3 linked regions of the Homo sapiens genome follow. The protein of the gene in region 1 purifies or fractionates together with the protein of each later gene. This does not show direct contact. Each region holds a gene or a part of one and is shown on either strand. Other genes may lie near its edges.

Region 1 (3,649 bases):
CTCCAGAAGGGGACACTGGTTTCTGAGCCTGCTCTGAGCCACTTGCATTCAGTAAATTTGCTGTTCTTGACAATTCTTTCAAACTAGATTCATTACTGAATGACGCCTTGGGCATTCCCTTTAATGTGAGAGTCACATATTAAAAGACAACACGAATTTCTTTAGTTCTTTACGGCTTGCAACATGTTTTCATATGCATGACTCTAGTTAATGTTCAAACCTTGAAAATACCTAGAGTGTCTAAATACTAGAGGGAAAAGAGAAGGTCTAAGTGAGTAGTGAATCTGGGACTCTAACCCATGTCTTAAGGCTCTTTCCTTCAACTTTCTCTAAAATGTTCTATGTAAGTCAAAGGGAAGGAGGAGGAATACTTGGGAAGACTAGCTGGAGAATCAACAAGATCTGTGAAAGAAGGGGGTAAGGGCTTACAAAGAGAAGGAGGGAATCTTCCATAAACTAGTAGACTTTTGATAGAAGGGGAAATGTAGAGAAGCACAGAGGGACAAAGCACTTCTGGAAAATGAGGTAATAGAGCAGTAAGATTGGGAACAGAACAAAGAGACGATTGGCAAAAATATATCTAGACAACCAAGAAAATGATGTCAAAGTTGCATGTTGCCATATCCTGGAAAGAATATTTGGCTTTGGAATTAGATTAATTAGTTCCTGTACCACTTCTGCTTGTCTGCTTGAATAAGGGTGTATTGTTAGCTAATTCTCTTTAGTTTCCTGATCCAGAAATTGGCATACATGCTTTTTTTTTTTTTTTTTTTTTTGAGAAGGAGTCTCGCTCTGTTGCCTAGGCTGAAGTGCAGTGGCACGATATCAGCTCACTGCAGCCTCCACCTCCCAAGTTCAAGAGATTCTTCTACCTCAGCCTCCCGAGAAGCTAGGATTACAGGCATGTGCCACCATACCCAGCTAATTTTTGTATATTTATTAGAGACGGGGTTTCACTAGGTTGGCCAGGATGGTCTCGAACTCCTCACCTCAAGTGATCCACCCACCTCAACCTCCCAAAGTGCTGGGATTATAGGCATGAGCCCCCACACTCAGACCATCAGACCATGCTAATTCTTTTTTTTTTTTATTTTTTTGAGAGGGAGTCTCACTTTGTTGCCTAAGCTGGAGTGCAGTGGCACGATCTCAGCTCACTGCAGCCTTCACCTCCCGGGTTCAAGCGATTCTCCTGCTTCAGGCTCCTGAGTAGTTGGGATTACAGGTGTCCACCACCATGCCCAGCTGATTTTTGTAGTTTTAGTAGAGATGGGGTTTCACCATGTTGGCCAGGCTGGTCTCGAACTCCTGACTTCGGGTGATCTGCCCACCTCCACCTCTCAAAGTGCTGGGATTACAGGTGTAAGCCACTGCCCCTGGCGCTAATTCTTAATATTGTAGTGAACATGAAAGATAATAATGTTCACCAAAGTGTTTTTTGAACTACTTAATACAGTATGAATGTGAGATTAATAATTTTTCTCACCAGGTGCAGTGGCTCACACCTGTAATCCCAGCACTTTGGGAGGCCAAGGCAGGCGGATCACCTCAGGTCAGGAGTTTTGAGACCAGTCTAGCCAACCCCATATCTACAAAAAATACAAAAAACTAGCCAGGTGTGGTGGCGGGTGCCTGTAATCCCAGCTACTTGGGAGGCTGAGGCAGGAGAACAACTTGAACCCAGGAGGGGGAGGTTAAAGTGAGCCGAGATCACTCCACTGCACTCCAGCCTGGGTGACAAGAGTGAAACTCTGTCTCAACAAAAGAAAAGAATTTTTCTCACAGACTGGGTGCAATGGCTCACATATGTAATCCCAGCACTTTGGGAGGCCAAGGTGGGAGGATGGCTTGAGCCCAGTAGTTCAAGACCAGCCTGAGCTACATGGCAAAACCCTGTCTCTACAAAAAACGTAAAAATCAGCTGGGCATGGTGGTGCATGCCTATGGTCCCAGCTACTCAGGAGGCTGAGGCAGGAGGATCGCACTAATCTAGGAGATGGAGGCTGCAGTAAGCCGAGATTGAGTCATTGCACTCCAGCCTGGGCGAAAGAGCCAGACTCTGTCTCAAATCACCCCACCACCACCCAGAAAAATAACAAACAAATGAAAATTATCTCATAGTCCTGATAACATCTCTACAGTTGAAATCTAACTCAAAGATATTTTCAGCATTCCTTGACCCTGTTACTTATAGTTTAATTCATAAACTTGGAATCAGTCATTCAGAAAACACTAAGGAGGCTCTCAGAGGCCCTGATCTGGGCTTGGGAGTTCTGAGAAGAATCAGATATGGACCAGACTCCTGAAGAGCTCACAATGAAGAGGCAGCAGGCAGGCTAAACAAATAATTCCAAACAACATGACAGTTCCCTAATTGGAGCCCAGAGGAAGGAGCTGTTACTGCCTTCTGTAGGAATGAGAATTTGAAATCAGTTCCAGAAGAATATATTTTTACTTAATAGGATGTAACCTATATGAAGTCTTAAACCATTTTCTTATTTGTTGTTTCTCAGTCTTCAAAGCTGAAACTCCTCAGGGCTGGAAGCTGCTTCCTCTGATCAGAATGGGTCCCTTATGAGGGTAGGGACCCTATCTCCTTCTGGGACCAAACACAGTATGAACTGTCTATTTACTTGGAAGCTTCCCTTAATCAGAGTGTTTCAGTGCAAATCTCACTTTACCATAACAGAGAAAAACTGAGGTTAAAAAGTCAGTTGGACGAATGATGTAACACATATGGGTAAGACAGCATAAACTTTATAAAACTATGAAACTTTTAATGATCTTGTGTTAATGATCTTGTAAGTGCTTTAGAGAAGGAGTTTTGGATTAGACTGCACCAACACTGAATGTGATCCCAGGGATATAACTGAACATTTTTATACCTCAGTTTTCTCATCTGTAAAATGGCTATAGTTACAACATCTACTTAATAGGTACTATATATAAAGTTGAATAGGAACTATATGTAAAGTTTATTCATGTAAAATGCTTAAAATAGAGTCTGAAAATACTGAGAAAATAACACCATGGTAGCAATTATTGTTGCTGTTCTTATTAACTCTTAAAATAATGATGATGTCAGACACTGTGCTAAAGAGATCAGGAAAAGAAGGCATTAGTTCCTATGATAGTCTGTACATTCTCCTCCTCTTACCTGTGTTTGGATCCATGAGGAAGGTTTCTTGTCAATAGGATTTGGGAAATACTTACCTTCTGGTGTTTACGCTGTTCCACTCTTAAGGCCATCCAAGGAGGTTTGACTAAAAGGTGATGAGAAATCAGTGGTTTGGTTGGTAAATGTTTCCAAACACTAGAGATTCTCTCTTCTATTTTTTATTTTTATTTTTTATTTTTGAGACGGAGTCTCCCTCTGTCGCCCAGGCTGGAGTGCAGTGGCTCAATCTCCACTCACTGCAACCTCCCTCTCCCGGATTCAAGCGATTCTCCTGCCTCAGCCTTGTGAGTTGTTGGGAACTACAGGTGTACGCCACCACACCCGGCTAATTTTTGTATTTTTAGTAGAGATAGGGTTTCTCCATGTTGGCGATGCTGGTCTCAAACTCCTGACCTCAGGTGATCCACCTGCGTCTGCCTCCCAAAGTGCTGAGATTACAGGCGTGAGCCACCATGCCGGGCCTAACTCTGGAGT
Region 2 (4,191 bases), on another chromosome or scaffold:
CCATGCATGGAAGGAAATATGATTTTAATTTGTATGACTGGCAACCAAACAATGGGCAACCTCCCAGTTCTTCAGTCCCTAAAGGACAGAAAAAGGAATGACTTGCAACATCTTCCAGCTCTGAAGTCAGTTTCTCCTCCTGAGTCTTCTAAAGCTACCACTAATATTCTCTTGCAAGTTTTAGGTTACCAAGGTATCACCTGGTATTACAACATGCAACAGTGTTTAAAATGTGGTTTTCACAGATTCTTGTTAATAAAGCACTCTTTGGTAGAAGACAAGCAGCTTGGGTACTTATCAGAGTTAATATTACTACAGTATTACAAACAGTCAAGTGAAGATGGTAAAGCCAAATAGTATCAAATTACAGAAAGTACCATTTCAGTAATGCCTTTTGTATCTTTACAAATTTTGACACAGGGTCACAAGCTGAACAGAAAATAAATACATTAAAAAACCTCCATCAGATCCTCAATTCTTCTGAAGGCCATCAACTACAATGCTTGCCATCACAAGGACACACATGCACCACAGACCAGCCAGCTCCCTGAGTACCAGAGGGCTTGGGTATTTACACCTGAGACTAAATTTACAACAGCATTTTTGTCATTCAGCTTGAGAGCTGGGCCTTTCTTTGAGTCATTCTTTTTGGGAGCAAGCCCCCCAAAATCCAGCCATAAACTGGCCCCAAAACTGGCCATAAATAAAATCTCTGCAGCACTGTAACATGTTCATAATGGCCCTAATGCCCACGCTGGAAGGGTGTGGGTTTACCGGAATGAGGGCAAGGAACACCTGGCCCACCCAGCCCAGAGTGGAAAACTGCTTAAAGGCATTCTTAAGCCACAAACAATAGCATGAGCCATCTGTGCCTTAAGGACGTGCTCCTGCCGCAGTTAACTAGCCCAACCTATGCCTTTAATTAGGCCCATCCCTTCGTTTCCCATAAGGGATACTTTTAGTTAATTTAATATCTATAGAAACAATGCTAATGACTTGTTTGCTGTTAATCAATATGTGGGTAAATCTCTGTTCGGGGCTCTCAGCTCTGAAGGCTGTGAGACCCCTGATTTCCCACTTTACACCTCTGTATTTCTGTGTGTGTGTCTTTAATTCCTCTAGCACCACTGGGGTAGGGTCTCCCTGACTGAGCTGGTCTTGGTACATTTGCTTGCACCCAAACTCAAAAGTTCATTACTGAAACCCCGTGGACATTTTCCCCATTGATTAGCTTCTTAGGTGGAAAGCAACTAAGTCTTTTGCAATTTTGTTTTGTTTTCAAATTGTGCTAATTTCTGTTGCAGTTTTCAGTTCCTAGAGTCTTCCTTCAGTTCTGGTCACAGGTTTTTACTTAATGCAAAACCATTTTAGTCCTTGAAATGGAGAGAAGCAGCTATCTGTCAGGGGGTCCTGATGGCTACTATGTTCTGAAATCTTTGAGTCAGAATAGCAGGATGGGAAGAATGTAGTCACAAACAATCCACCAGATGACAACACTACACAGTGTAAAGGTCAGCACAGCCAGGGGAGATGGGAGAAGAATATCGTTTGTTTTTGATTGTCTTCGCCTTTTCAGGGCCCGACTTCTATCACCTTGTGTCACTCCATTGATTTCGTCGTCATCACTGTAAGGTTTGGGTTCTTGCTGGTCTTGATTCTCGACCCCATTTATGGAAATGTCATCAACACCAGAGAGAAGTTTGGAGAAGGCTGCTCTGTGTTGTCCATTCTCCTGCCCCTTTAACCTCTGACGAAAATAGTCCCCTTCCAGCCAGAGGCTTGTTTGCTTCATCACCAAAAACTGCTGCTGAGGCCCGATCACCAAGCCAGGTCTGCAGATCCTTACCCACGCAATGGTCTCGGCTGCTGTCATCCTGTAATGCTTCATGATGTAGCAGGCTATCAGAGTGCCTGTGCGACCAAGGCCAGCTTTACAATGTACTGCAATGGCACCCTCAGCATTTTCACAGATATCCAGAAATCTTTTGACAATGGCATCAGTAGGGGTGCTGCCATCCGCAAAGAAAAGATCATGGTGATCGAAGCCAGCATCCGTAAAGCGTTTGGCATCATACATCCTTTTATTCAGACGAATAATGGTAGTAACATTGTGATTCTTAAAATATTGAATATAAGTCTCGGGAGAATGTTGGTGGTAACCACTTTCAAGTCTGGCTCTTGAATGAGGTCCACAGAAGGCAATAAATCGGTCTGGTATTATCCAATTTAAATCTCCGTTTTCTGCTTTTTCATAGTGTTCATATTCATCAAGGTTAAATGAGTTGAAATTAAGGAAGCCATACTGCATTGCCTTCTTTACTGCATGAAAACAGTCAAGAAGTGTAATGTAGAAATTGCAGCTTCCATAGGCAGCATCTCTGAAAGGAATATAGGGTGTATCTCCAAAGATTAATATTCTATATGCTGCTTCTGGGGTTCTCCCCAAGTATATAACCATGTAGCATCCAACAAGGAAGGCAGCATTTGCTTGTTTTCTCTGATCAGAGCCAGTAAAATGAACAATTTTCTTCCTTAACATTGTAATGGACTTTAATTTCTTATTTATCTTGCAACAATATCTGTAAACCATTGCCAGATTGAGTGGTCCAAAGTCTTCGGAGAAGTTCTCATATTCGAGTTCATTATCTATGCTGAAATAATGTACATTTGATGCACTCTTTGGTCTGCTGTAGAGAATGGCAAAACGAAGGCGATCGGTGATGTCCACGTACACGTCGTCCTGGGGGTCCCGGCGGCGCGGGTCCTGCAGCGTGGAGCTGCGCATCTTCTTCACACCCTGCGAGGTCAAAGAGCAGCGCGGCGAGCAGTGGGGCGCGGCGGCCCAGCTCGACCGCCCCTTGCTTTTCCGCTTCCTGGAGGCCGCCGCGGCCAGTCAGGGAGCAACGACCACGGCCCCGCGCGCGCCGCCAAGGCTGGCGCCAGTGCCGCGCGGGCTCTCAGGACGGCGGGCACAGAGCGGCATTGCAGGGACGGCGGGAGCCGGCGGAGCCCGAAAAGAGGCGGTGGTGCAGGAGCCAGAGGAGGGGCCTGGCCCACAGCGCCTGCCCCGCTCCCTCCCGCAACCGCCCTCCCTTTGCTTTTTTAAACCATGAACTGAAGGGCTATATCATACTGACATCAACAAAGTGTTGGATGAATAAGTCATCATGCTCTTGTCATAGCAACCACCTGGATCTTAACCTTCTCTCCAGTCTCTGGAAATTCAGCCAAATAAGTGTTACTTCGAGTATGACTTTATTACCAAATGACAGTATTTTTGAAGCACTCATTTAGGATCCATTAAAAGTTGGAGGTTGTGACCATTTGATATTGAAAGTCATGCCTGCTTGGAGACAAGTTAATGTTGACATATTGCTCTTTCACCAACTCTCCCAATACCCCAACCTTGGAAACATGGGGCCACAAGATAGTTAAATAGATAGTTTAAAAGATGGCATTTCTTTTTTCTGTTCTATGTGGGCTTTCCAAAGAAAAGTCTTGGAGAAGCTAAACAATGTGTGTAGAAGATCACACAGGGATATCACAAGTGATAAATTTTATACCCAATGTCATCCCAAAGCCAATGTGCAGCTTTGCACTCCTTGGCAACGGAACAGGCCTCTCTCCTTCACAAAAGAGAGCTTCGTGAAGCTTCATCCCTAAGTTTTGGTTTGGGGGTAAAATAAAGAAGAGGACTGATGGGTTGTTCTTGAGCTTACTACTCATTCATACATCTTCTTGCCCTTTCTGTTTGGTGGGATTTCCCCTAATCATTTATATCCTTCTGGTGTCCACAAGGAGTGAGACCTAAATTCCCAATTAGATAGGCTTTATGAAATTTTAAAAGTAAATGTATATATTAGAGTTAGTTTAGGAGAAAGGAGAGAAGAGTAAAAGAAGATGGGTAAAGATTCATATTTGTCCTTAAAGATTCAAGCTTCTGGATGCCACAAATATTTTGATTAATGGGGACCTCAAGAATAATTTTGCTCACCACTGTCCCAATGCTTGCCCCCCGTCCACAATATTTCTGTCCAGTGAATGCATTGTATTTTCTTTTCTCCAGTTTCTGTTGGAATACCCGTATCTGATAGGAAACACACGTCTGAAGGCATGCAGTGAGGATGTTGATTTCCCTTGCCTTTTCTTATCATTTATTAATAGATTCAGAAACAATTTACTGAATGTTTG
Region 3 (3,649 bases), on another chromosome or scaffold:
TGTAAGCTGCTGCTGAGACAGATTTGTACAGTTGGATTTTCAGGCTCAGAACGTGCCCCAAAGCTGTTGGGTTCCTCCAAGCAACTCTCTAGTGAGAGGCAGGGCTGTTCGTTGGCTAGACAGGTTCTCCACACTCTCCACCCTCACCCGCACCCCTGCACCAGGCAGGATGACAGAGAACCACCAATAGATAGCTGCTTGGCTAGGCTCACGCCCTTCTGCCAGGCTTCTCCAAATAAGGGCCACTGGAAGAAAAGTGTCTCTGCCTCATCTGCAGAACTGCAGATCAACTCTGCCCACTGAGCCCTCCGGCCCGAGTTAGGGCTTTGTGAGTCACATACCTTCCAGAACGCAAGCCGGAGTAGGTGTCGGGGGAATGGGCTCTCTCACGGTAACCACTCCTAACGGCCCCAACACATTTGTAGTCTTCATCTGTTCTTTATGGAGCCGGAATCATGAAGCCCCCTGACCCTTAGGCAACTTGCTTTTATCACCTGGTGAGTTCTTAAGGAATCCTGCTTTGGTTTATTTATGTATTTGCCTGTGTTTTACAAAGCTGTATCCCTCATTAGAGATATCTCTACTGCAAGCAAAGTGCCCTGACAGCATGTGGGTCTTCTCAGCCTTCAGACACGTGGTGCCAGGGATGCAAACCACGCTGTGAGAGCCGGGGCGGGCAAGCGGGCCGGTGGGAGCCTCACCTATGCGCCCCAGCCCGATGATGCCGACAGTGCTCTGCGTGAGTCCATAGCCACACAGCCAGAGGGGCTTCCACGAGGTCCAGCCACCACTGAGGGGAGAGAGAGGGGCAGGTGAGAGGCCCAGCCTTGGACCAAGATGGGGGCCGCTGAGAACCCGGCACCTCTGACTGTGGTCCAAGGTATAAACCCACCCTCCAGGTCACGGACTGAGAGTGGGATGAGGCACTGCCACTCGGCACTGCAGATGAGCAGCAGAAACGACTCCACCTTTAAAGCCACCAGAGACATAGAACTTGAGGGCGGGAAGGGGCCTTACTGGCTCTCATCCTGTTTTGCAGATGGGAAAACAAACCAGAAAGGGTGACTTGCCTGAGGTCACACAACCAGGGAAGAGTTGAGAGCAACAGGCTGCAAACTCAGGATTTATGATTCCAAAACAAGTTCTCTTGGCACTTTAGGGCAGCAACAAAGAGTACAGCCACAGGGCCCACCCTGCTGCCCTGGGCAAGAGATGGAGCCTGCCCTGAGCCACCTCCAGTAGATGTGATGACTCCCCAGACAGGACAGTGAGCAGGACTCAGCACTGTCTACTCTGCTCCATGCCCCGTGCCGGGGCCCACGCTGCTGGCCACGCACTGTGAGAGCCTGCGTTTGCACGCCTCCCACCTTGACTCGGGCCAGTCCCTCCATCTGCACATGGAATGCTTCCCCCAACTTTTTTTTTTTTTTTTTTTGGAGACAGGGTCTTGCTGTGTCGCCCAGACTGGAGTACAGTGACATGATCTCGGTTCACTGCAGCCTCTGCCTCCTGGGTTCAAGCAATCCTCCCACCTCAGCCTCCCGAGTAGTTGGGACTACAGGCGTGTAACACCACGCCTGCCTAATTTTTGTATTTTTTGTAGAGACAGACTTTTGCCACATTGCCCAAGCTGTTCTCCAACTCCTGAGGCTCAAACAATCTGCCCGCCTCGGCCTCCCAAAGTGCTGGGATTACAGGTGTGAGCCACCGTGCCCGGCCAACTCTAACTCTTGATATACAGGCCGAAATCCCTGATCTGAAACCTTCAGGCTAGATTTTAAAACTGTTTGGCCTTTAGAAAGGCAGCATGGCGCACGTGGTAGATTCCACACATCACCCTCTGCAGTGTCTGGGCAGCAGCCTGTTTTAAAAGTGTTACATCTGCAGCAAAACTTAGGAAAGTCACATTAAATGGGAGAAATAAAAGCCTTAAATAGTCTCCTGTTAGTATGAAAGAACTTTCAGCTGTCCGAGCTTTTTAGATTTTGGGATCTAAGGGATGGTGGACCTGCAGCTTTCAGGACTCAAGCGGACGCCCACCTGCTACTTATTCTGTGAAGCCCTCCCTGATCCACACTCTCCCTGCCAGCCCTCACCCACCAGCAGAACTTGTTTGTCCTCCCTCATCCTCTTCTCTCACCACTTCCCTTTCTGCCCTTATTGCAGCTCTGCTTTGTGCTTTATTTTAGCTGAGTCCTCACTCAATGGGGCACACCTGGGGTCAGGGACTATGCGTGGGCTGGACTGGCACAGTGATCAGGATCCAGTGCTGAGCAGAGCCAACGTTCCTGCCAGGCGTTCACTTATTTTTCTTTTTTTTTTTGAGACAGAGTCTCACACCGTCACCTGGGCTGGAGTGCAATGGTGTGATCTCAGCTCACTGCAACCTCTGTCTCCTGGGTTCACATGATTCTCCTGCCTCAGCCTCCCAAGTAGCTGGGATTACAGGGACCCACCACCACACCCAGCTAATTTTTTTTGTATTTTTACTAGAGACGGGGTTTCACTATGTTGGCCAGACTGGTCTCGAACTCCTAACCTCATGATCCGCTCACTTTGGCCTCCCAAAGTGCTGGGATTACAGCCGTGAGCCACCGCACCTGGTCTGCGTTCACTTACTTCTTCACTTCCTCGATGGCCTCCGGCAACCGGCGGCAGGTGGTAAGTAGCAGGGAGACTGCGAGTTCGGCGGTGGTATCTGTCAGGACATCTGGGGTGTAGCCAACTCGGATCCCACTACGAATCAGACATCTGGTGGTAACATCAGCCTCAACCATATTTACCAATGTCTACTGCTGGGACATTTCCATGGAGTTACTTTGCTCCCTCTTTGATCTGCCTGCCAGGAAGCTCAGAACTATAAATGAGCACTCAAAAACGGGCAGTCCTCATTCCTATTTAGATTATCTCCCACTTTGGAAGGATATGAAGATGGAAGATCAGGGTTCAGGGACTGAACAAGTAACTTAACCTTTCTGAATTTCCTCATCTGAAACAGAAAGAATAACACCTGCCTTTGCTACTTCAAGGTATTGTTGTGGGGATCAAAAAAGATAATGAATGTGAAAGGGTGCCACCTACACAGAAGTTACCCACTGTTTCTGACTGCTGGGGTTTATTGTAACTGACCTGTGCACATGTGGACAGATTCTATCATCAGCCACCTCACATTCTCCCTGAATGGCCGAGGGATATGCAGTAAAAACAAATCAACAGCTCTTCTTTCTCTCATAGCCACCCCTCTCTCTAGGCCCCCTCCAGATCCCAAGCTGCAGTTACCGCTTCTTGATTTCATCCAAAGCCAAGTGGTCGATGCCCACAGACATGGTGCTGATGACTTTGAGATTGGCCCCTGTTGTGCAGAAAGTGCATTGTTAGTATCTTTCCTCGAGGAACTCAAAGCCACAGCACTGGGGACTATCATGGGGACACCGCTTATTATTGTTTTCTTAGAATAAGAGGCTGACATCTCTGTTCTTCAGTTAAAACTCTGAATAATCCCCTTTGACAGCCTCAGACACTGCAGTTCAGGGAGGTTAAGTGGCCTGGCTCAGTCACAGGCAGAGCCGGGTTCACCTCAGGGCCTCTGCCACCAAGGCCCCGCTCTTACCCACTGGACTGTCCACCCAGCGAGGCCTCCGGTCTTCTT

Evidence for each region.
Region 2: the proteins of PRDM9 (region 1) and CDC14C purify together in Homo sapiens (affinity purification with mass spectrometry, with the first as the bait; one large-scale study listed by BioGRID). This does not show direct contact.
Region 3: the proteins of PRDM9 (region 1) and GRHPR purify together in Homo sapiens (affinity purification with mass spectrometry; one large-scale study listed by BioGRID and IntAct). This does not show direct contact.

Annotation. Positions count from the first base shown.
Region 1 is NC_000005.10:23,517,492-23,521,140, reverse strand, and holds part of PRDM9 (histone-lysine N-methyltransferase PRDM9 isoform PRDM9 B), read right to left. Parts: intron 3,261-3,649; coding exon 3,211-3,260; intron 119-3,210; coding exon 1-118. UniProt on the Homo sapiens protein: Histone methyltransferase that sequentially mono-, di-, and tri-methylates both 'Lys-4' (H3K4) and 'Lys-36' (H3K36) of histone H3 to produce respectively trimethylated 'Lys-4' (H3K4me3) and trimethylated 'Lys-36' (H3K36me3) histone H3 and plays a key role in meiotic prophase by determining hotspot localization thereby promoting meiotic recombination.
Region 2 is NC_000007.14:48,923,267-48,927,457, reverse strand, and holds CDC14C (dual specificity protein phosphatase CDC14C), read right to left. Parts: upstream 2,912-4,191; 5' UTR 2,786-2,911; coding exon 1,442-2,785; 3' UTR 4-1,441; downstream 1-3.
Region 3 is NC_000009.12:37,425,625-37,429,273, reverse strand, and holds part of GRHPR (glyoxylate reductase/hydroxypyruvate reductase), read right to left. Parts: intron 3,353-3,649; coding exon 3,280-3,352; intron 2,737-3,279; coding exon 2,620-2,736; intron 791-2,619; coding exon 702-790; exon of another isoform or gene 433-701; coding exon of another isoform or gene 342-432; intron 1-341. UniProt on the Homo sapiens protein: Enzyme with hydroxy-pyruvate reductase, glyoxylate reductase and D-glycerate dehydrogenase enzymatic activities. Reduces hydroxypyruvate to D-glycerate, glyoxylate to glycolate, oxidizes D-glycerate to hydroxypyruvate.